Homo sapiens: one gene and its partners. The protein of the gene in region 6 purifies or fractionates together with the protein of the main gene of each other region. This does not show direct contact. Each region holds a gene or a part of one and is shown on either strand. Other genes may lie near its edges. The genes, in order: CLCC1, SCARB2, LRRTM4, PLXDC2, OSTM1, ODR4 and EVA1C.

Region 1 (3,500 bases), about 77 Mb from region 6:
CTGGCTTTCCCCTCAAGTGAGATAGGAAGTCACTGGAAGACTTCTGAGATAGGTGACAGGTAATTACTAACTATAAAAGCTGGAAGGACCATCTTAAGTTGTTTTTTTTTTTTTTTTTTTTTTTTTGAGACGACGTCTCACTCTGTCACCCAGGCTGGAGTGCAATGGCACGATCTCGGCTCACTGCAACCTCCGCCCCCTGGAATCAAGCAATTCTCCTGTCTCAGCCTCCCAAGTAGCTGGGATTACAGGTGCATACCACATCACGCCTGGCTAATTTTCTTGTATTTTCAGTAGAGATGGGGCTTTGCCACGTTGGCCAGGCTGGTCTTGAACTGCAGACCTCCAGTGATCCGCCTGCCTCGGCCTCCCAGTGCTGGGATCACAGGCGTGAGCCGCCGCGCCTGGTCCATCTTTCTAGATACATGTAGATATGTTTATTTTTATATGAAACTATGGGAAGGGATTCTATAATTTCCCAGATTCTATTATGCTCATAACTGTTTCAAAGGTTTAACAGCTGCAATTTAAACATTTCAAATGACAATACAAATTCCTCTCTCAAACAGAAATGGAAATGTCCCTTTAAAAGACTGATAATGGTGAAAAACTTCTTCTTACCATTCTACAGGTAAAAAGTATAGTCTAGCCAGCCAATGACACTGAAGATTTGGGGAAGCAATGTTTTTGATCCCTGGCCCCAGCCCACTCTTCCATCCAGCTAATCCTTTAGGGCTCTACTGTACCTTCCCTAGAGCTCCGGGCCTTCAGTGATGCCTTCTCTCTGATCTCTTCAAAGATAGAAATTTCTGTCATGCTCATACGCTGGCTTCCCATGAAGGTTCATATGAATTACCATCTGCTCTAACAAACTACTGTTAAATTGTATTTTACATAAAAGTTAAATCTAATTTTATTTCTTCTGAGGAAGCTGAACTAACTTTTGACCAGAAAGGGGAGAGAGTGAGTGGCTGTATCACTCATGATATAATTAAGGGTGAGGGGTAAAAGAGTAAAAACAATCAGACCTCTTCCAGAAGGATTTAGAACCAGTAATGAAGGGACAGCAGAATAAAAGAGTTGCTGACTTACACTGGGTACCACCGTGGGATGCTCTCGTGCCTCTGCGTCTGGTACATCAAATGCCCGGAGCACTTCAGGGCTCTTGTTGCCAGTCTGAAATCTCAAGTCAACATCTCTCTCTCTCAAAATCTCTCTTCTACCCTCATACGTTTTGGCATAAGGGCCTTGCTCAGTGGGGCCCATTTGGCCCCTATAATGGAAATCGGCATCACCTGCTCCACCATCAGGTCTATAATCAATTTCCTCCTGCCGTCTTCTATCCCGTGGCCGAAGTGCCTGGGGAGGTTCGCTCTCAGGACCGCCTATATGTCTCAGCACATGAACTGATTTTCCAGCACCATAGCAGAAACTCTGTAAGGAAAAGAAATACATTTTCCTGAGGACTCAATGGCTAACTTACAAAAGTTATGAGGCATTTTATTCAGAGTGCTAACAAAGTTATGTAATTTAACTTACTTGTGGCATTTATAGACATAAACATGTTAATTTGACTTTTTTTCATTAGAGACCTCTTTAGATTAATACAAGGCCAGAGTGGCCAATAAAACTTAATAAATCTTTCAGTAGACATTTTAATCAGCTAGACACATTTCGATTGAACTATAACAATGGCAGGCTGAAGCCTAGATATTTAAATTAGAAGGTTCTAGTCTGATAATTATTCATGTTTCTAGATTCATGCCCATCATATAAGGTAAATGCTGAAAATATTTAAAGTTGTATATCATTATGTAAACAATCTTCTGTACATTTTCTTTTTACAAATATAAACTAGGCTTAAGTTACAGCTAAAATTCAACAGGTTTTGATTCACATTCCATGGGAAAAAGTAGGCAGCAGTTCCTTACAGTGTGGCCCAGGGACCCCCGGGGGATACCTGAGACTTTCAGGAGATCTATGAGATCAAAACTTTTCATAATACAAAGACATTATTATTTGTCTTTTTCACTGTCCCCTCCTGAATATACAACGGAGCATTCCAGATGCTAGAGTGACAGCCTCACTCAGACTCAGGGGATGCATGCTTGCGTGTACAGTACTCGTATGTTTTAAATTTGTTTTAACTCCTAATATGTAAGTATCAATAAATATAATCACCTTAAGTAAGAGCTGTTTGTGGGCTTCAATTTTTAAGACTGCAAAGAGGTCCTGAGAACAGAAACTTTGAAAATTTCTGTACTAGTTTTTCAAACACTACTATTTGAAGACAAAAGCAGCAAAAGTCAAAGAGCATAACTTTCCTGAGGGAGCACATGAAACAAAAACAGATGGTGAAGACTCTGCTGATAATTTCAGTTTCAGAGACTAAACTATGACTATAGAACTAATGTCACCTAACAAAAAAATACCCGTCAACCACATAATCCTGTAATCACAAGCCAAAAAACAAAACCAAAAAAGAAACGATTTCAAAGTGAACAGAGATAGTGAATCTTGTATCCTTAGGGAAGAGAATTTCCCTTGGCACATCTGAGTTCTTTTTGTTTTATGCGACAACTGCTTTACTTGGGTAATAGCTAAAAAATCGATAACAAAAAACACTGAATAGACCATGGAGGGATGACGAGTAATATTTCTTCTTAATGTCTGCTCCTGGATCCCCAAACTCTTTCTCAGCATACCCATGTTCTTCCACATCCCTTTCTGGTTCTGTGTCAAACTCAATGCTCTACCCTTCTCACTGCTGCAAAAACTGACTAGAAATAAGAAGTCCCCCTTTCTGGGAGACAGAAATCAACTTCCTATTTCCTGTGTATTAATTTACCAAGGTTAACACATTTAAAAAGAGGTTATTATTCTAAATCACTGCTATGACATATGCAATCAAACTAGAGAACTACTTTCTTGATTATAAAAATATACAAGTAAGTATAATATGTCTGTATCATTTAGAGGGGCAGAGGGGAGGAAAAAAATCTGTATCACTTAAAAATCGCCTTCTCATTAAGCGTGACTTAGCCTGATTTACAACATCAAAGAAGCCCAATAATTTTAGCATTGCCTTTTTTTCTGTAAATCTTGCTAAATATTGACAGTGCTAATATTTAATACTAACCAGTATTACTAATATTAATACTAAGATTTAATATAAATCTTGCTAAATACTGACAGTGCATATATATATATAAATATAAATATATAATATATAAATATATATTATATATAATAAATATATAAATATAGACAGATATATAAATATAAATATATATAGATAGATATATAAATATACATATATGTATAATTTTTTTTTTTTTTTGAGACGGAATCTTGCTCTGTCGCCCAGGCTGGAGTACAGTGGTGCGATCTCGGCTCACTGCAAGCTCCGCCTCCCAGGTTCACCCCGTTCTCCTGCCTCAGCCTCCCGAGTAGCTGGGACTACAGGCGCCCGCCACCACGCCCGGCTAATTTTTTGTATT
Region 2 (3,500 bases), on a different chromosome or scaffold from region 6:
GTTGCAATCATAGCTCACTGCAGCCTTGAATTCCTACGCTCCAGCCTCAGCCTCCTGGGTATCTGGAACTATAGGTGTATGCTACTATGCCCAGCTAATTTTTAAATTTTTTGTTCAGATGGGGTCTCCCTGTTGCCCATGCAGGTCTAAATTCTTGGCCTCAAGTGAGCCTCCTGCTTCAGCCTCCTAAAGTGTTAGGATTACAGGCATGATCCACCATGCCTCACCAATATATTTTTAATAACTCTCCAGATAATTCTGATGTAAAGCCAGGTGTGGGGGTCACTGCCCTGTCAGACAAGGATCAGGAGGTATACTGCTGACTTCAGACTTATTCCAAAATGATATCTTATTCTTTTTTTTTTTTTCTTTTTTAAAAGATGGAGTCTCGCTATGTTGCCCAGGCTAGAATCAAACTGGGCTCAAACGACCCTTCCACCATAGCCTCCTGAGTAGCTGGGTCTACAGGCACACGCCACCATGCCAGGCCTGAAAGGAGATTTTAAAATGAGATAGATAAGGGAGCAAAAGTGAGCACATTACTATTCAGGAGAAAGGGACTACACAGAGAGCTCTCCAGAGAAATTTTAAAGAGGAATTACAGCCCAAGAGGGAATCACAGGGCAAATATGAGAAGACCCTGAGTTCCGCCAGGGATCTGCTCAGAGGGAGGAGTCGCATCAAAATCACGTTCCCTCTCTGAGCCCTAGTTTCCCCAATTATAAAAACAGGCCGCTGAATGTCTACTATCTAGTAAGTTCATTGTGAATAATTCTGCAACATGTGGCTGTTAAAACTACTCTTCAAGATGAAGAAAATAGTTTTGTCAGTTGTGCCACTGATAATTCTGCCTCATTCATGGAAAGGAGCAGAGTAGCTCTGACATTAAGAAACACTGGGACATTTGTGTCAGGGTTTAAAACTAACTCTGCTTCAAAATCACTGAGAATCTTTGCCATGATACGTACTTTCTTAAAACTGAGTTGTCCACTTTTTCTTTTAGCTTTTTTTTTTTTTTGGTGGGGAGGTGCGGAATCACTCTATTGCCCAGGCTGGAGTGCAGCAGCACAATCATAGCACAGTGCAACCTCGAACTCCTGGGTTCAAGCAATCTCTCTGCCTCAGCCTCCTGAGCAGCTGTAACTACAGGTGTGTGCCGCCACACCCAGCTAATTTTTTAATTTTTTTTTTTTTGTAGAGACAGGGTCTTGCTATGTTGCCCAGGCTGATCTTGAACCCCTGGCCTCAAGCAATCCTCACATCTCGGCCTCTCAAAGTGCTGGGAATACAAGCATGAGCCACCGTGCCCAGCCTTAGCATTGTTTTGAACATGAAATCAGTTAATGTTTTGCATGCATTAACTACATGTAAATATGTAAAGCACTTAGGACAGTGACTGGCATACATCAGGTGCTTAGTAAACATGAGCTATTATTACTGTTAAGACTTCTAAACCACTGTCCAGAAAAAAAAACACAACATGGCATTCTAGAAATAAAAAGCATCACAGAAAAGCCATGATTTTTTTTTACCATTCAATAGCCATGTTATGAAACATTGTTCTTGAAAGAAACTGATCTTTCTATTGGGCTGACAATATATTCTTTTTTGTTTGTTTTGTTTTTTAGAGACAGTGGTCTCGCCATGTTGCCCAGGATGGACTTGAGAACTCCTGGGCTCAAGTGATCATCCCACCTCAGCATCCTTAGTAGCTGGGACTGTAGGTGTGCGCCACTACGCCCAGCTACATATTCTTTGTTGAACTCCAATCCTTCTGCATTCTTGACACCCCTATCATGTCCCCTCTCTGAGTTCTTACCATTCTTGCAGATGCTGACATTCAGAACTCCTGAGCCCAGGCAGTTTCCCTCAGGTATACAGAAGCCGGCATTGTCTGACGTATTGGCTAATATTTCTGCAGGAACTTTATACCGAAAGGCAGGCAGTCCCTGTACACTCTCATAGTCACTGAAAGTAATATACACTGACCTGTTAGGATGTAAGAATAAAAAGTGAATGTGGACTCTGGTCAGTGTAATCTGCCCGAAATCCGCAAGTTAGCAACAGTTCTCAGGTACAACATGGCCAAAAGCTCACAGGGTAAGTAGAAAGGAATGTTTGGAAGGCATTCTGTCAACTCAACGTGTAATAAAGCAGAAGATGAATTGTAGTGGAAGGTGTTTATTGTAGCAACGGTGATATCATCCAAACAAGAAAAAACAATATGTGGTACAAAATTAAGATGATAACATTTAGAATGGAGACTCACATAAAAAAGAAATAAGAGGCCTCTCTAGACCTGCATGGACATATGCCAGTGTGGACGGGCCACCGGCAAAGCCAGGGAAGCCAGGGCACGGCAGAGCCAAAGCTAAGGTAGAACAGGCAGCGATGGCCGTGGCCTCGTAGGGTCTTAGGCACTTGAAAAGTGTCACATTGGACAGATACTTTATTGGAATACACACTTTGATACTCAATCCCCCCCTCCAAGAAAAATCAGATTCCATATTTTGCCCCAGTCATTTATTTAAATGGAGTTCAACGTAATTCTGCCTTTCATTCTTACTGATTTCAAACATAGTCCCATGTAATATGACCACTGCTTACACTGCATAGTGCCTAACCACTTTGATGTACACAGTCACCACTGAGCCTTCAGCCCTTCCTTTGAAGGCTGGCCGGAAGAGCCTTCTGGGCCTCACTTTTTCATCTCTGAACCAGAGCTGTTGATACATCTCTCGCAAGGTTGTGAATAACATAGGTGGTTTCACTGCACAAACCAAACCACCCCTACAGCATTTTTTAATGAAAAATTTTAGGCACCAGAAAGAGATAAAATACTCTAACAAATACCTTTGTATCTGCCACTTAGACAAATAAAAATTATATTATGGATATAACTGAACCTGTCTACGTAATGCTCTTGATTCCATTCCTTCTCTGCCTCCCCTGAGGAAACCACTCTGCTGAAATATGGACAACAGTATCTTTTATTTGGCTTCCATGTAGAGACTACCTATTGACTGGAAGTAGACCAGGTCAGTTGATGCTTGACAGAGCATATCATAGTAACTAAGAGCCAACACTTAATATTGGTTACTGTGTGATGGGCCCTGGGCTAAGTATTTGACTAATACTAACTCATTTGTCCTCATAACAACCTCTAACATAGTTAACAATTTCTATCTTTGTTTTACAAATAAGGAAAGTGAGGTACAGAGTGGTTAAGTAATTTGCCCAAGGTCACACAGCTATAAGTGGTAGAGCCAAGATTCAAACCAACAGTCAGAAGTCTGTGCTGTGAACCAGTACACTATACTGTCTCGATGTGCCATCAGCATTTATCACTGATTATGCATAAATATCCATGCATAATAAGTGTGTCTGCATATATTCCTCATGCTTTTGGTGGTCTTGCAGTGAAAGACCTTATTTTTGAAAAAGAACTTATCTTTAAAGCTTTTACCTGCAAAAGTCAGATGGGAAGACATAAAGGACCT
Region 3 (4,067 bases), on a different chromosome or scaffold from region 6:
TAATGTAATTATGGTCAAGATAAAGCCATATAAGCTGGTTAAGGCCGGCAAACTGATTGGATTTGAGCTTCTGAATGCTGTTGAACCTTAATGATAAGCCTTGTGACCCTCCAGAAATGTTCTCAGGGATATCTGCGAAAGCATGAGACTCACAGTACACAATTTTGCCATCACATCTGCAGTTCTTTGGGCAAGCTCTCTGAGCACCCGTGAGCATAACAAGCAGCAGTGTAGGAAGTAGCACCAGCACCACACTCATGCCTTTCAGCTGCGTAATTAAATGGAAACCTACGATATTAAAAAAAAGACAGATGCACATTGTGAAGCTATTAAAATAAATCACCGTCGGTTTACCAACAACAGGGGCATTTCCTCTAGTGTAGGAATGGGACAGTTGATTTAAGGAAAATGCATTAACATTTCGAGCATTATTTTCTTCAGTGTTGCATGTTTGCTGCTTAGGTTTCACTTTTTCTTCCTTGATCTTCAAATCACCACAGTCCCATAGAATTAAGAAAAGCCTTTTTGAGTTTCAGGAGTTCCTACTTATTTCAACATTGAAAAGCACAGAGCCTTTCTCACCACTGAATGCTGACATTTTAGTAACAATAATATTTGGCTAACCACTGTATTGAACAACAGTACCAAAAGGAAGTGTACTATGTGCTCTGGTAAGGGCAAAAATGTGACTTAGTAAACCTGGTACCTGTACGTGTTTCCCAGTTGAGCAAACAGGCTGTGATTTGGCAAAAGAGCTTCAGTAAGCTGTCAAGGTAACCCAAGTTTGCCCTGCCTGAAATTGTGTACTTATTGCATAATAGGATCGCAATATGTGAGCTCTGAAAAAACAGCATTGAGACTAGTATAGGCAGCCAATGAAGCATTGGATGAAGACTAATAACGGTACGAGGTGCTCTCAAGTTGTTAATAAGCATAGATTATTGCATACTGTGGCTCCCTGCCCAACGATACAGGAGCTAAGACATCTAAATACTCATAACAGAGAACACTCCAAAGTTAAGACTATCAAAATTCGTATTATTTGCCTAAAAAGCAAAATAATATTGTGTAGTATCACTTTGCCATTATTTTAGAGTTGTTTTTGCAAATTCGAAGGATAAACAAGGAAAGAAGCAGCCAACTACTATTTTTCTCTACATCACCCTGATCTCTTCACATTTCTCACTGACTTTTTTCTCCCCTATCTCCATTAACTTCAGAAAGCCTGCAAAGTTACAATCTATTGGCACTTACACTGCATTTCCAAGTCATTGCATGTTAAGGGACTTCTTTCCTCCGTCAACAGTAGATTTATTATTTCTTAATGGAGAGAAAAAAAAAGAAACAACTACCATGTGTTGCAGTTTCTTTTTTTTTCTTAAATTTTTAAATTTTTAACCAAGAGGCAATCAACCAAATCCCTAATCTAAAACCCATCCTTCTTCTCAAACAGTTAAGTTTTTCTTTTTTTTCTTTTTAATTTAAAACCCGATCTTGCTCTCTGTCCTCTTGCCAGCTACAGACTCATTGAAATACATTCCAGCTCTCCCAGACAGGAGAAAGGGGGGGAAAAAAGCCAGTCACACTCGAAAAAATAAGACTGGCAAATGACTGCTGGAAATTCGGAAGCTGTGTTCAGGATCCAGCTTCAAAGATAAAACAAGCCCTTGTGCAACCTCTGATAAAGTAAGGACCCCACCCCTACATACACGCAGCAAAGTGTTAATAGTCATCCTGACAGCTACCAGAAACACAAGCCTCGTTAATATTATCAAGAAATAGAAGCAAACACAGTATTTATCTCCTTCTGAATTCCCAAGCTGTGGATACGCAGACAGTAGAAACAGTCTTAAAGATATTTCTCTAGAGTCTGTTTAAGTTCGTGTTGTGCATTTATAGATTAAAAAAAAAACACTGCAAAAAGGAAAATGATCTAAAAATATAATAGCAACTATAGTGAATCAACTGGCAAACTCAAAGGCTGCTGCTCTTTGCCTGTTTCCCCGTCTTTTATCTGCTAATGCCACGACTGAGGATAGGAAGCCAAGAGGATCAGCTTTGCTCAGAAGGAAACAACAAAAGTTCACTTACCCATCCTTTGTCATCCAAAAACGTTTCCCCCCTCTCTCAGCTTTCTTCTTATTTGGTCTCTTGTGCGGAAACCACCACCACCTTCATGACACAGTGCGGCTGTCATTCACACCATTCTGATCCCGCATGTGAGCTAGTAGCCCCATACAAACTTCCCCGAGAGGACAGGCAAAAAAAAAAAAAAAAAATACATATATATATATACATATATATATATATATAAAAAATCAGCACAGGGTGGGATGGTTGTGGGGGCAGGGAAAAGGAAGCCGTTGGGGGGATAGGGATGGGGGAGGGCCTCTAGGCTCTGAGGACCATTGTGTAATTCACCAGAGACCCATCAGCAGTAATTGGCAATCTGTGCAAAAGAGCTACAGCCCATCTCGGAGGTAACCAACTTCTCTGTAAAAAGAGAGGAAAAAAAGAAAATCTTCAGAATACCTGGCATTCCTTATTGTGCTGGCTTTTGCCATTCCCAGATAAAGCAATTCATCCTCTGGATTTTCAGTTCTTGAAGCAAGTAGGCCTCCTGTGCTGTATGAGACCCCAGTTTAAAAGCTATGCAGGCTAGGTTTATCCATTTAGCTGGTCAGGTTTAAAGTGTTTTGTAGCTGTGCTGGGAGGCAGCCCTTGTCTAATTCAGAAGGCTTTCCAGAGACTGATGATGCTCAGAGCTTGTTGGTGCTAATGCTTGAGTTTGTGATACACTGAGTGCCCTCCGCTGGAGAAAACAGATTGCACATTAAAGACGGGAACAAGTGAGCCTGTCAGTGGTGTGCAGCCTTCCCTTGCTCAGAAAGGGAAATTAAAGGCACAGAATCACTATTTTTTTCTCTCCAATAATTTAAAAGGTTTATGCCAAGGAGTTCCTTTCAGTTATAGCAAATATTAAGTAAAATACTGCTTCTCTAAATGTTATGCAATTAATAGTTTTTCAAAGTTGCCATGACCTGAAATTTGTTTTTTCTGCACGTCACTGGAGATTTATCATCTTTTGCAAATGACAGAAATTGTTGAAATTTAAGTTTTATTCACTGTTGCTGTTGGTTTGTTTTATTTATTTATATTGTTTTAAACTAACCGCTTATGGAAGAAATCTTATTCAAGGGAAAAATGCAATTTTAATCAATTTTAAACAGGTTACATTTAACATGTTTAAGTCTGATTTTCAAATTCTCAACCTTTGACATAAAATGCATTTTACAATTTTGTGCATTTTATTGAACAGTCTAGAACACTACTTTCTAAAAGTTTACATTTTTAGTCTTAAAGCAGTTATAATCTATAGTATATTACCAAATGTGAAGGTAACTAAGAGATAAGAGTAGAATTCTAGCTTGACATTCTTAGTGCAGCCATTATCCTTAAATCATCTACATTTAGAATGCAAATCATTTCTTATGCAAATCACTTATTGTAATGTGCAATTCCAGAAAAACAAAAGCACTTGAGTTCTGCATTATCATGGTATTACTCTAAAATGTGCAGAATATCCTCAGAATTAGAAGGGATGACATGATAAAACACCTGATATATATATAATTTAAAAGGACCTACACACTTTCTTTAAGCTTGGACAGACGTTGAAAAACATAGTGCATCACCTCCATTTTTTCCTCATTTTTACTAGTTTATTCCATAATCCTCTGGCAGATAACAATTTTTAGAATAATCCAGGAGAATGAATCAATGTAATGCAGGGAGAGACTGCTAGGTAAGACTGCTAACCTAATTTAGCAGACGTGAGAAATTTAAATGAATTTCACATAAGCATTTAGAATTGCTGTGGATCATCGCAAATAGATATTTTTAGAAAGAGCCTTGGTTTTAGATTGTTTGCCAAAATATTAATAATTAAGGGGGCTTATCATATAAATAACACATATAATTTGACTCAGATGTATGAGTAGGCAGTTGCAGGCAATTGTCTCATTACTAAGATTTCTTGAGGAACAGAAAGGAATAATATGTCCCCC
Region 4 (3,500 bases), on a different chromosome or scaffold from region 6:
GTGTCTGCATGTGAATGTCACACACATCTCAAACTCAAGGAGTATAGAATGGAACTTGCCATATATTATTCTCTCTTTGTGTTTCTACTGTCAATGAACAGGACCTAGTATTCCGTAAACAGGATCTAATAATGTTCAGTAAACACCCTACGTTTAAGGTAAAATCCTAGGCTCAGATTGCTTTTGGCAGTAACGGCAGACTAAGGAACTAAATAGCCCTCCTATAACAAAACAAGTAGATTCTGAATAAAACTTGAATTTTAAAGCCTTAGGATTTGCAGGAGGTAAAGAATATCCCAATGGTGCCTTTCCATTGTTTATTCCCCTCCCCACTCAAAAAATAAAACAAAGCAAAAGCTATGTGCTATAAAGACAGTAGGAGCTGTATACATTAAGGGAAGTTAAAAAAGCAGAATTTGCCCTGAGGAAAAAAATCCAAAATCAATATCGCTCTAAAGAGAACAAGCCTTGCAGCAGTAGTAGACAGGGGAGAAAAATCTGAACTTCTCCTCCTCACATTAGGGCAGAGACTTATGGTAGCCTGAAAATCCTGAGGATCCCATCATCAAATCTTCTTTGGGGGAAAACATCACCTATTTAGGTCTTAGAATAGGATCAGACAAATATACACTAAAAAAGAAAAAAAAATAGCTGTCTGAGAAAGAATCAGCAAAAACAATGACCACACTATTTAGATCACCAAAATTTTAGATAATGGGATCATCCAATATGGAATATACAAAAATCATACACGGAATATTTAAAATCATAAAAGATAAAATTGAGAAATGAACGGTTCACATGAAACTATAAAATACTTGGCAGATGTAATAAGTGTCAAATTTAATTTTAGATATGAAAAATGTTTGTTGGAATTTCTACTTCAGTGAGTAGATTACATAGAATATTAAACAAGATGAAGGGAGAGTTAATAAACCGGTAAATACATCTGAAGAAATTGCTCCAAATACAGCACAGAGTAATAAGGAAAGAGATTACATATAATAGAGGTTTAAAAATATGAGGAAAAGATGAAAATGGCAAGCTTTCAAAGAAGTCAGAAGGTGAAAATAAAGAGAGTGGAGAAGTATAGCTGAAGAGTACATTTATCAAGCTTGACACCCAACCAACAGGAAAACACACATTTTTCTTGAACACACATAGACCCTTTGTACAAAATGCCCATGTACTTGTTCATGAAAAATTTCCAATCAACTTTAAAGATCATAACATGTTCTCTGATGATGACTCAATTAGTCTAGAAGTCAATAGTAAAAAAGGTAAATTTTAAAAGCCTCTGTAATTAGGAAATGTGATCTAATTCATAATTTAATGTATTTCCAATAAAATGTTAGTAAGATGTATTGATAGATGGATTACAGATCTCGACAAGGTGAGTTTAATATTTATATGAAGGACAAAAGCCCTAAAATACCCAAACACTTGTGAAGAAGAAAAAGTAAGGAGATTTGTCCTGTATATAGTAAGATTTCTTATAAAACAATAGAAATTAATACAGTGGGACACTGATCTAAGTACTGACAGAGCTTTAGAAGAGGAGAGCCCAGAAAATATACATAAAACAGGTGACTTTGCAAGATATTGCCAAAAGAAAGGATTAGTTAACAAATGGTGCTTGAAATTTGGCTATCCATCAAGAAAAAAAACCCCACGAAACTGAATCTCTACCTTATATAATACATAAAAACCAATTCCAAATGGAATAGATTTTGACGTGTAAGACAAAGCTTTAAAATATTCAGAAAAAAATACACAAAAATAACACCTAGATGGAATTTGGTAGGAAAATTCTTCTAAAAGAAGATGCACAGGCATATAAAACTCATCATAAAAATAAAAGATTCATACATTTGACAGATTAAATTGATAATTAATGTTAGTGAAATAAAATCATAGAGAAAATGAAAAGATAAACCAAATTTGGGAGAAAAAATATACATCTGAATTACATTCTCAATCTTTACATATATGGAGATATTCATTTTCAACATTTTATATTGAGGTAACTGATTATATGAAAGAAATGATTGTCTCAAAACACAACTATGGCTTTGTCAATAGATACTCTTTGGAACTACGTTATTAGATAAGTGAGGTGAGACGGATGAGCACACACTGCTGTCATTCCCTAAATGAAATGCCAAAAGGTTGGTTATAGCTACACTGGCAATACTGCATTTAAAGTTCAAGAATGTTTTTAAAAATGTATTGCTCAAGATCTTTATGAAACATGCCCCCCAAAAATGAATTTTTAAAAAGTCTCTAAGTAACCATTGAACAAATAGTTTTTAAAACAGCATTTTGGCATGGCTTGCTTTGCTAAACTTTTGTAATTGTTAGCAGTTTTAATTCAAAATTGATACCCCAAAACTTAATGAAGGGAGAAGAAGTAAATGCTTTTCTTCATAAACTTTATAGGATATCTTTATATGATCTTGAAATGATAGTATAAATGCGAGTCACTGCAAAGCTTTTAAACGGGTTAAAATTGTTTCTGGTATCCAATTGCTTACACGACTTCACTGCATCCTTGTCTCTATCATGTTTCCCTCAGAGTTAACATTATACCATCTCTCTATGCCAACTAATGTTATACAATTTCTCATTTATTACAGCACATCAATTTGCTGCAGTCTTCCACCCTCCACAATACCACTGGTCTTGCTGTTTGAATTACAAAGAGGAACAATGGTTTCGTACATCCTAGAAAAATAGCAAGCATTTAAGAGAACTCCTCTACAGATTCCAATCCTGGCCCTACTATTCCCTAGCCATTTACCTGACTCTCCAAGAACCCACACTTCACCCCTCCCCACAAGCTCCCCTCACTCCTCCCCTTTCTCTCCTTGGTAATATGGGGGTAGTGACAGTGCAGGCACTGTTCTTCATAGAATGAATATGACAATGAAATGAGATAATACATATAAATAGTTAAGCCCCATGTCTGCATCTATTAGGGGTTGTAGCAAGTTGCTACAATGTAATGAAAATGTTATCTAATTTAACAAAAATAGCCAGCTGTTATCGAACCCCTAATATTTGCAGACATTGGGCTTATAGAAGGATTCTTCTCCTTTCATTAAGTTTTAGGGCATAAATTTTGAATAAAAATTATTAACAGTTAAAACACATGTATATGACAGCTTGGTCCCAGGATTCTGTCACAATAAAGCATGTGTACCTCTTCAGGGCATCCACTGTCCACCCAGTCCTGCCGATGACGATCAAATCCACTGGAACATCTTCAAAGAAGACCACAATGCAGTTCAGAAAAGGAAGGATAGGGTGCAGGGTGGTGGACAGAAATTAAAAGTAAAAGATTAGTAGGTAGTTCATTCTCACATTTTCAGTTTAGCATAACATTAACTCTTCTATAGAACTCGCAACTGGAGAAGCAGGGAAATATTTAGAGGGTTGCTAAATAATCACTCATTCCTTAGGATGTCACTGTTAGGATCGCACATGGCAACCAAATCACT
Region 5 (2,833 bases), on a different chromosome or scaffold from region 6:
GCCTCAGCCTCCCAAAGTGTTGGGATTACAGGCAGGAGTCACTGCACCCAGCATCATTCATTTTAAAGCTCTGAAATCTTTTGATTGCATTGGGGTACTGAGATGGATTTTTTTTTTTTTTTTTTGAGACAGGGTCTTGTTCTGTCACTCAGGCTGGAGTACAGTGGCACAATCTTGGCTCACTGCAACCTCTGCCTCCTAGACTCAAGCGATCCTCCCACCTCAGCCTCCTGAGTAGCTGGGACTACAGGTACACACCATGATGCTCAGCTAGTTTTTTAATTTCTTGTAGAGACAAGGTCTCACTATATTGCCCAGGCTGGTGTCAAACTCACGGGCTCAAGTGATCCTCCCGCTTCAGCCTCCCAAAGTGCTGGGATTACAGGTACCAGTCACCACACCCAGCAGATTTTAAAAAATACCTGTTTATCACAAGAAAAACATATTTAAAAAATCATCATTGCAAAGCTCCACACTGTAAGAAGCATGGATCAGTCAAATTATCTTTTAAAAGCCCTCTTTAATTCCAAGGAGATAAAGAAAGTTATTTGTCATTAAACATGTTACATGTATGACTAATATTTATTATAGCTAATATAATAGTTTAGAACAAGGAAATTTAGTAGAGTTGTAACATTTTGGTGCTACATGTATAATTCAGCATAAGCCAAAGCCTTTTTAAAATAACCAATACTATCATTTTATGAAATCTTTACAAGATAAGCACAGTAGTACAATATTTAAGCATCTCAAGTCTCCATTTAAGAGTTGACTATCAAAGAATGACTGTTATAAATAAAGAGCTCTATGATGTTCCACTTATTTAGTCTTAATAAGGTAGGGAAATAAGTGACATACTTTTTAGAAGAATCCATGCAGTGGACAGAAAGTCAGATTAGGTAGTCCCTAGGGATCCATCCAGCTCTGGGAATCTATCATCAGATGGCCTCTAAGGTTTCTTCTAGCTCAGAAAATAGAGGTACTTGGAACATAATTTTTTAAATTTTAAATGGTTATATAGGTTAATAGTATTTTTTGCTTTTCAAAATTCATTGCTGGTGATGTCTATTACTTATTTGATGTCATGTCTTTGGCCAGGAATGCAATCCTAATTAGCATTGTTCCAGGAAAACATTTCATTTTATAGGGAGCATATCCCAGAAACATTAGAAAATACTAGTCCCAATATAAGTAACATTTACCAACTAGACTCTGGGCTACACTTTAAAATATCTGATGTTCAGCCAGGTGTGGTGCTTATGCTTGTAATCCCAGCACTTTGGGAGGCTAAGGCAGGAGGATCTCTTGAACTCAGGAGTTCAAGACCAGCTTGGGCAACATAGTGAGACACTGTCTCTACAAAAAAAAAAAAAAAAAAAATTAATTATAAAAAAAAAAGAAAAAATATATCTGATGTTATTTCTATCTCTCAAGTTCAACAATAAATAATCCAAAGTACATTTTTATTTGCAGCAAAATTTAAGACAGACAGTACTTTCTTTTTTCTTTTTTTTTTTTTTTTTTTGAGACAAGGTCTGGCTCTGTCGCCCAGGTTGGAATGCAGTGGTACAATCTTGGCTCATTGCAACCTCCACCTCCCGGGCTCAAGACATCCTCCCATCTCAGCCTCCCAAGTAGCTAGGACTACAGGCACTTACCACCATACCCAGCTAATTTTTGTATTTTTTGCAGAGACAGTGTTTCACTATGTTGTCCAGGCTGGTCTCGAACTCATAAGCTCCAGCGATCTGCTTCAGCCTCCCAAAGTGCTGCAAATACAGGTATGAGACACTGTGTCCAGCTGATGGTACTCATAAAAGTAGGCATCTAAACTCAATACCTGAAAAACAAATGTGATGTTAAATTACATCTGAAATTTTAAAAATGTATTTAAAAATCCAAATAAAGCTTACAATTTCCTTATTTCCTTTATTTTAATGTGTCAAAAAAACACTTAAAGATATTCTTGTAAATACATATAAGCTGTGTGTCAACATTCAGTACTATGCAAATCATTTTTCAATATGACAAAATGAAAAACTTACACACTTTAGGGTAGCGCTTAATACTTATCTTTGAAATCTATTGCTGATGCTAGGTCTAAAGAGCAATGACTCAACCAGAAAAAATAGTAAAGGCTGCCTTTTCCTTTTTAAAGTGCTTATTAGCTTTATATCCAAAAACAATGGTTTTTACAAATACATAATACTGAAAGGTGCTCAAAAAGTCACCACTTACAGAATTGAACATGTCATTTTCTAACTCTGCACATGTAAACTTGTTTTATCTGCATTAATGAAGATTGCTTCAAATGGCTCTCAATCATATGCTTCAAATCAAGACAGTGCTAAGTTCCAGCAGCATAAACAGTGACAGCAGAACAAACCCCAGCACATTTTCAGTGGATCACAGCAGATCAGAGAAAGTGTAACAGCTTTTGAGTATGTTATACATCCAAGAGCCTTATATTTCACTCCACATAAACAGTAAACATAAAAGAAAAAAGAAACACTTTGTCTCCCTATAGAGCATTTTATAGTATAGGAAGGGATTCAAATTCTCTTTTTAACAAAATTCTTGTTTCTATATAGAGGAGATTTTATATTCTTAATGTTTACAACAAAGCCTATTTCCACCAAAAAAGCAAGAAGAAATTAATAAATGAAATCCTGAACTCTAAAAACCTAAGAAATAAAACTGTGAACAATTCTGAAACGGAGTGTTTTTTCTAAAGGCTAATACAAACATACCAAAATAGAATTTCTGAGCACGAACTATGTGATTTCATTTCAATCGTATCACTTTCATCTGATTGAAATAATTTAGAAACAAT
Region 6 (3,500 bases):
AAGATACTGTAACTCAGCCTTTTTTAAACGTAATGAAGTCTGTTAGAGTAATAGCTGAGAAGCATATAAACTAGTGTAGTTTATATAAATAGTACCTACTAAAGGAGCTATTATATAGTATTTAACACTAATAATATTTTGATTATGGCTAAATTATTTAAAATACTCATAGATATCAACAAAAAATACTAACTTTAAAATGTTAACAAAGTTTACTCATTCTGGCAGGAGAAGTTCACTTGGAATTAATTTTTTTAAAAATCCTCCCTGAAATTCTTAATTGTTGACAAATTTGCTAAATTTGATAGTGTTCTAAAACGTTTTTCTAGAGCCAAGCATGGTGGCTCACACCTGTAATCCCAGCACTTCGGGAAGCCAAAGACAGTGGATCACTTGAGTTCAGGAGTTTGAAACTAGCCTGGGCAACATGGCAAAACCCTGTCTCTAAAAAAACAATACCAAAAATTAGCAAGGCATCATGGCATGTGCCTGCAGGCCCACCTACTAGGGAGGCTGAGGTAGGAGGACTGCTTGAGCCCAAGAGGCTGAGGCTGCAGGTGAGCCATGACTGTGCCACTGCACCCCAGCCTGGGCAACACAGTGAGACTCTGTCTAAAAAAAAAAAAAAAAATCTGAGTAGCAACTGAAAAATTTTCATCCAATAATAAAAGATGATATACTGCTTGAAAATATAGATAGGTAGCTATAAAAGATGACGTATCTGCTATATCTTGATATCTTATTACTATATCAGTTGAAGATACGCAAAAAAGTACTTATTTTATACTCATAACTTTTTTTTCTGGAATTTCATTCAAAAGCAGATCCTCAAATAGCATTTCACAACGATCAGCAACTGTGTTCAATATATCCCTCTTTACTGCCTACAGGGAAAAACACACAAAAAACACAGTAAGAAATAAAATACTTTAGATTTACAATATTTAACTAACAAAAAAAATAATTTGCTTTCCAGTACAATCATGCCCACTAAATAACTGATACATCATTCAATGTTTTATTTCCACTTATTTAGCACACTTATTAACAAATTTATAGTTTAATGATAAATTTATCTAAATAGTTAAAAACAGATAAATGAATAAAATTTCACATCTAAAAAAATAATTGCAGTGTTCCAAATTAGATACTAATATGTATAACAGTGGAACACTTACTAAACTTGTATAGCCATCATTTTTAAAAAGGCACAAAATAGATACTCTACATATGAAAATCTTCACACCAATTATATGGTACATTTGGACTGCACAATAGGCCATTATCAGTTAAAATCGAATTAATAATTACAAAATATAAGATTAAAAAATGGTAAAATTTTAGGTTTTTGTTAATAGTTAACATGGTTCCATATGCTCGTTATTCCTTTTTGTACCTGCACAGCATCTTTAACTTTGGGTTTACTGCTGTGGATATAAGCTCTGCATTTCACAGCACCCTTAAGGTTTACAGAACCGCTACATATCTGGACTGTGGCTGTGGATCTGTGGTCTGAATTCAGGAGCTGAAAGACAAAATCTGTTTAAGTTCTAATAACCAACAATGATTAACTACAGGAAATATTTAAACATTATATTAGCGATTTTATGAAGAGAGAACAAAGTTTTGACTGAGCCAAGCATTTGAAATTATTCTCTGCAAATTATTTAAAGGCCTTCATATTTGTTTTTATAAGTTATATATTATTTTCCAGTCATTTTGAAGATATAATGAAATTAAACACAACTACATCTAAATTTTTCTAACATAACCATCTAAAATGGTTCAATATTCACTCGATATGCTCCTAAAAATATATTATTTGCAAATTATTCACATCAGTACTGTGATGATTAAAAGATATACAAAGAAGATATGATGTACTAGATATAAGTTGTGCAATGCAAAATAAGTTCACAATAACAAATACAAAGTGGGATGTGATAACTATGGTAAAACTACAAGCAATGCACAGACACATATATTTACACACTTTCAACCAAAAACTTTCATAGACTAGTCCCATCCTCTTTAGTCTAAGGAATGCCAGTGCTCTTGTTCGGTTTTCAGGTGTTTCACATATATTTTCAACCCCATCATCTTAATAAGTGCCAAAAACAAGGACAGTATCAAAATAGTTAAAGTACTACAGGTTGAGCATCCCTAATCTAAAAATCCTGAATGCTCCAAAATCCAAAACTTATTGAGCACCAATGTGATGTTCAAAGGAAAAGGTAATTGGAGCATATAAGATTTTAGATTTTTGGCTTAGAGATGCTCAACTGGTATGTATTCTGCAAATATTACAAAATCTAAAAAAAATCCCAAACCCAAAACACTTCTGGTCCTAAGCATTTCAAATAAGGCACACTCAACCTGTAATAGAGGCCTATAATAACAGTGGAAACAAAAAATAATGATTTACAAAAAATAACCAAAAAATGGAAATGGTAAGGAAGTAATTTATGTTCTAAGAACACTTGGAGTATAAGTCATTCAACAACCAAATCAATTCTGAAGAACAAAAGTCAAATCATACAACTTGTGAAAAGTGCTTTGTGCCTATGTGCTTATGCAATCAGGAATAAATGCGGAAAAATAATGAAGAGGAGAATACTGACATGCATAGCTATTGAAAGAGCATTATTGATGTCTAGTGTAATTCAAGCAATGTCTAAGGCAATGTAAATCTTCTAGGTGTTGTTAAACAATTTAAACTTTAAGATGGTCAAGGACTTGTTGACAAAAAATTTGCCACAGACCACACAGCTCCAAAGGTCCTGGGTCCATTCAAAAATGGCTATCATCAAACCAAGCAGCAGTGTGACGATGCTGATACAATGTCTGGAATAAGCTTCCATATGACACATGTAGAGTTCATTGATACATCAATAAGGTGGGGTTGGAGGAGGAGTAACAGGCTTCCCCTATCTACTCCATAACTTTTTATTGTAGACAAAACTACTCTAAAAAGAATGTCCTATTTTACATATTTAACATATAATTTATATATTTTTAACATATAACACATTTATATATTAGTATATGTAAATATATGTGTATGTGTGTATATACATATATCTATCTATCTATCTATCTATCTATCTATCTATCTATAATTATGGCATTGTTATCCAAAACAGACTAGACTATTAAAGACTATACACACACATATTAAAGAAAAGAGGTATTTTTTTGGTTGGTTGGTTAGTTTTATTTTGTTTTGTTTGAGGCAGGGTCTTGTTCTGTCATCCAGCCTAGAGTACAGTGATGCTATCAGAGCTCACTGCAGCCTCAAGCTCCTAGGCTCAATCGATCCTCCCACCTTCGCCTCCCAAGTAGCTGGGACTACAGGCACACACCATCACCCCCAGCTAATTTTTGTATTTTTTTGTAGAGACAGGGTTTCACTTGTTGCTCAGACTCATCTTGAACTCCTAGGCTCAAGCGATCACCCTGCCTAGGCCTCCCAAAGTGCTGGGATTACAGGCATGAGCTAC
Region 7 (3,500 bases), on a different chromosome or scaffold from region 6:
AGGAGACCAGGAGGTATTTACTGCTTCCTGGACAAAGGTCAGGTCCAAAAACACGGCTATTGACCAGGAGGTGGCAGGCCCGCTGGTTCTGGCATTCGTCCAGCACCTTCTAGAAGGAGAGGGTAGAAAAGGGACAGGCTTGAAAACTGCTCACAGTGACTGCCAGACCCGAACCTGGGCTGCTCTGGGCTCTGCAAAGGGAAGGACGCCTCCCCACCTGGCCAAGCTGTGTCTAAGGCCAAAGAGCATAGACGTGGGTGATTGGGTTAGCTCCCTGTCTCCCTGCTCTTTCTCCTGAAAAGAAACCTGATCCAATAGTGCCAGGCTCCTGGGAAAACTAACCTCTGATCCACCACTACTGGTGCGGCGGCTGCTACTTTCAGCAAAGGCACTGAGTGCCGAGGCTCCAGGGGGTGCAAGCGAGGTCAGAGGACTTTCAGATATTGGGGTGCAGGGTACTTCAGGGTCCCCTTCGAGCGGGGTCCCCTAGCTTTAAGCTGAGAGAGCTGTGACCATCAGGATTCACAGTCCTGGCCTTTCATCCTTAAATAGCCCCACACAGGACACAGGAGAGCTGTGCATCGGGGAGCTCTTGGGGACCCAAACCCTTTCCAGCTTACGAACCATCCACAGGCCAAAAAATAAAAATTACAAAGCTGATTCCCACCCTCATCAAACTCAAGAGGATGGGACCCACTTCTCCCTCGGGGAGCAGTTTTCTTAGTGGAACACTCAGACTTTCTGTTGAGCATTGGCAGTAAAGGCTTTCCTGCAAATCTCAATCTCTCTCTCTCTCCTGATTTTTTCCAGACAGCTCCTTCGTTTTTAAGGCATCTGCTCTGTGGAAGCTCACAGAACACCCTCCTCCAGGTCCTGGGAAGGCTCAGCTTTTTGCTGCTGTTCTCTAGGTCCTCGTTCCCAAATGGAACAAGTCCTGCTTGTGATAAACACAGAGGTCCTGAACTTGGGTCTGGTTAAAACAAAAACAAAAAGGACATCAAGTACAGTTAAAAAAAAAGTTCCCAAGAATCTGCTTATTACTTTAGGTCTGAATTTAGTGCAGACACGTGAGCCTCTCTGAGTCACCATGTTCTCATAGTAGCTCGTGGAATAGCTCCGTGAAGAATGCTGGCCCCGCCAGGTATCCCCCATTCTCTCAGGGGCCCAGCAGATGTGTCTCAATCAGGAAAAAATACCCAAGAAACCCCTCAGACCCCAGAAGGTGCAGCTTTCAGATGACTGCATGTGGCATGGCCAAAGGTCATGGTGAAATGACTTGGCCCACAGATGTCACCGGAGGGCTCCACTGTTACAACCACAGAGCAGACCCCAGGGCAGGGCTATTTCCAAACTATGTCATGAGCTGGAAAATGCAGAGAGGGGGACTTGCTGCTGACAGTCAAGGGATGGATCAGCTGTGGTCTCCTGTGTGGATGTCTCCCCATGTTAAGCAACCTCCCTCTGAGGAAGCACCTTGCCTGTGCTCCGAGTGCAGCTTAAAAGACACAAAAGAAGGCTGGGCGCGGTGGCTCACACCTGTAATCCCAGCATTTTGGGGGGCCGAAGCGGGCAGATCACCTGAGGTCAGGAGTTCAAGACCAGCCTGACTAACACAGTGAAACCCTGTCTCTACTAAAAGTACAAAAATTAGCAGGCGTGGTGGTGGGCACCTGTGATCCCAGCTACTCGGGAGGCTGAGGCAGGAGAATTGCTTGAACCTGGGAGGCAGAGGTTGTGGTAAGCCGAGATTGCGCCATTGCACTCCAGCCTGGGCAACAAGAGTGAAACTCCGTCTCAAACAAACAAACAAAAAAGACACAAAAGTAAAGGACTTCTTGACCTCTGGTTGAAAGAGTAGCGCATGGGGATGTTTCTGGCAAACAAACCCTCCCAACAACGTCAGAACTGTGTTCACAAATGCTAACCTGTCGGCCTGGTTATAGAACATCCTCTTCCCTCAGGGGTATCTGGCAGAGGCAGGTACCCGTGGAATGGTGCAGGTGGTGCCCATGCTCTAGTGTATGCCAAGAGTTCCTACTTTTACAAAGTAGCCACTTTAAAAAAATGTTGGTACTGGCCAACATTCCTTTCATGCACCCAGGAGGGCAGCAGGTAGCCTGGGATCCAAGGATGGATGGCCAGGGCAGGTGGCTGAGAAATGGGGGTGGGTCAAGAGGGATGTAGCTCCTGGGGTGGCGCCCAACAGAGAGAGTTAGGGGTAGGGTGGGTGCTATGGCTGGAATGTTTATCCCCCCCAAAACTCACATTGAAATGTAATTGCTGCTTTAACAGTAACAGTGTTAACAGGTGGAGTCTTTAAGAGGTGATTAGACCATCAGGTCTTCACCCTTATGAATGGATTAATACTGTTTTTGTTTGTTTGTTTGTTTTTTGTTTTTTTTCAGGAGTAGGTTGTTAGAGTGGCACTAGGCTTGTTATAAAAGGCAAGTTGGCCCTCTCTCCTTCTCTTGCCCCTTCCATTCTTCTGCCACATGAGTACCAGCGTTCTCCAACCCCCTAGAGGATGTAGTGTTCAAGGAGCCATCCTGGAAGTAGAGACACCAAACCTATGGCGCCTTGCTCTTGGACTTCCTGACCTTCAGAACAGTGAGAAATCAATCTCAGGTCCTTATGAATTACCCAGGCTCAGGTACACTGTTATAGCAGCACAAAAAGGACTAAGACAGTGGAGCACACAGGGAAAGCAACTTCTTGTCTCCTGAAGAAACATGTTGTCTCTCCTCAAGGTATAGAAACCATGTCATGGGGAGTCATTCAGACACATTCATTTTGGCTACTCAATTGGTGTGTTTCACCAATCACCTAAATACCCAGATACTACCATGCTTGGAGTGGAAGCAAGGGATGGTGTGAGAAATAGAAAAATTCTTACATCATCACATTAGTTTGCGTCTCCTGTTTGGGCCTTAGGGAGAGCTACACAGCATTAAAGCTACTCTTATTTCTCCTTAGTTCTAGCAAATGTATCTTTATCCATATTTCCTACGGTCGACAAAATCAAACAGACTTCCAACTTTCCACCTGCTCTAAACTCCCTGCTTTAAATGTATTCATATGGAACTTGGGAGGCATAAAAAAAAAAATCCAAGGCCAAGTGACTCAGTAATCCTGGTCAACTAGTTATATATGTTAGGGGCCAGGGATGGTGAAGTAGAAGTTGCTCAGATGATTGAAAGCCATGCACAGTCTAAAACCATCATTGAAATATTAGTTTGACCTTCTCCTATACCAAATCTTTCCCTAAATATGCCAACCACAAAAAGAATGACTTAAACCACACCTCTCCCAATTCCTGGTACTATGTAGTAGAAGGAAGGAGTCAGTAAAGGCTGCCTAAAATAGCTCCAAGCAAGAATGACATGATTATCTACAACTGAAGAAGCAAATCATTAAAAAGCACAAGGCAGTTACTGATATTACTGATATTTCCTTCCTTGAATACATTTTCTTTTTTTTGAGATGGAGTCTCGCTCTGTTGC

What was found.
Region 1: the proteins of ODR4 (region 6) and CLCC1 purify together in Homo sapiens (co-immunoprecipitation; one large-scale study listed by IntAct). This does not show direct contact.
Region 2: the proteins of ODR4 (region 6) and SCARB2 purify together in Homo sapiens (co-immunoprecipitation; one large-scale study listed by IntAct). This does not show direct contact.
Region 3: the proteins of ODR4 (region 6) and LRRTM4 purify together in Homo sapiens (co-immunoprecipitation; one large-scale study listed by IntAct). This does not show direct contact.
Region 4: the proteins of ODR4 (region 6) and PLXDC2 purify together in Homo sapiens (co-immunoprecipitation; one large-scale study listed by IntAct). This does not show direct contact.
Region 5: the proteins of ODR4 (region 6) and OSTM1 purify together in Homo sapiens (co-immunoprecipitation; one large-scale study listed by IntAct). This does not show direct contact.
Region 7: the proteins of ODR4 (region 6) and EVA1C purify together in Homo sapiens (co-immunoprecipitation; one large-scale study listed by IntAct). This does not show direct contact.

The regions. Positions count from the first base shown.
Region 1 is NC_000001.11:108,935,985-108,939,484, forward strand, and holds part of CLCC1 (chloride channel CLIC-like protein 1 isoform 1 precursor), read right to left. Parts: intron 2,325-3,500; exon of another isoform or gene 2,182-2,324; intron 1,435-2,181; coding exon 1,093-1,434; intron 1-1,092. UniProt on the Homo sapiens protein: Anion-selective channel with Ca(2+)-dependent and voltage-independent gating. Permeable to small monovalent anions with selectivity for bromide > chloride > nitrate > fluoride.
Region 2 is NC_000004.12:76,172,325-76,175,824, forward strand, and holds part of SCARB2 (lysosome membrane protein 2), read right to left. Parts: coding exon 3,467-3,500; intron 1,990-3,466; coding exon 1,820-1,989; intron 1-1,819.
Region 3 is NC_000002.12:77,519,577-77,523,643, forward strand, and holds the start of LRRTM4 (leucine-rich repeat transmembrane neuronal protein 4 isoform a precursor), read right to left. Parts: upstream 2,801-4,067; 5' UTR 2,540-2,800; coding exon of another isoform or gene 2,533-2,539; intron 2,243-2,532; 5' UTR 2,096-2,242; coding exon 2,092-2,095; intron 289-2,091; coding exon 1-288. UniProt on the Homo sapiens protein: May play a role in the development and maintenance of the vertebrate nervous system. Exhibits strong synaptogenic activity, restricted to excitatory presynaptic differentiation.
Region 4 is NC_000010.11:20,211,432-20,214,931, reverse strand, and holds part of PLXDC2 (plexin domain-containing protein 2 isoform 1 precursor), read right to left. Parts: intron 3,264-3,500; coding exon 3,203-3,263; intron 1-3,202. UniProt on the Homo sapiens protein: May play a role in tumor angiogenesis.
Region 5 is NC_000006.12:108,040,909-108,043,741, forward strand, and holds the end of OSTM1 (osteopetrosis-associated transmembrane protein 1 precursor), read right to left. Parts: 3' UTR 501-2,833; downstream 1-500. UniProt on the Homo sapiens protein: Required for osteoclast and melanocyte maturation and function.
Region 6 is NC_000001.11:186,396,338-186,399,837, reverse strand, and holds part of ODR4 (protein odr-4 homolog), read right to left. Parts: intron 1,540-3,500; coding exon of another isoform or gene 1,526-1,539; coding exon 1,397-1,525; intron 885-1,396; coding exon 794-884; intron 1-793. UniProt on the Homo sapiens protein: May play a role in the trafficking of a subset of G-protein coupled receptors.
Region 7 is NC_000021.9:32,454,206-32,457,705, reverse strand, and holds part of EVA1C (protein eva-1 homolog C isoform 1 precursor), read right to left. Parts: exon of another isoform or gene 117-3,500; intron 110-116; coding exon 1-109. UniProt on the Homo sapiens protein: Binds heparin.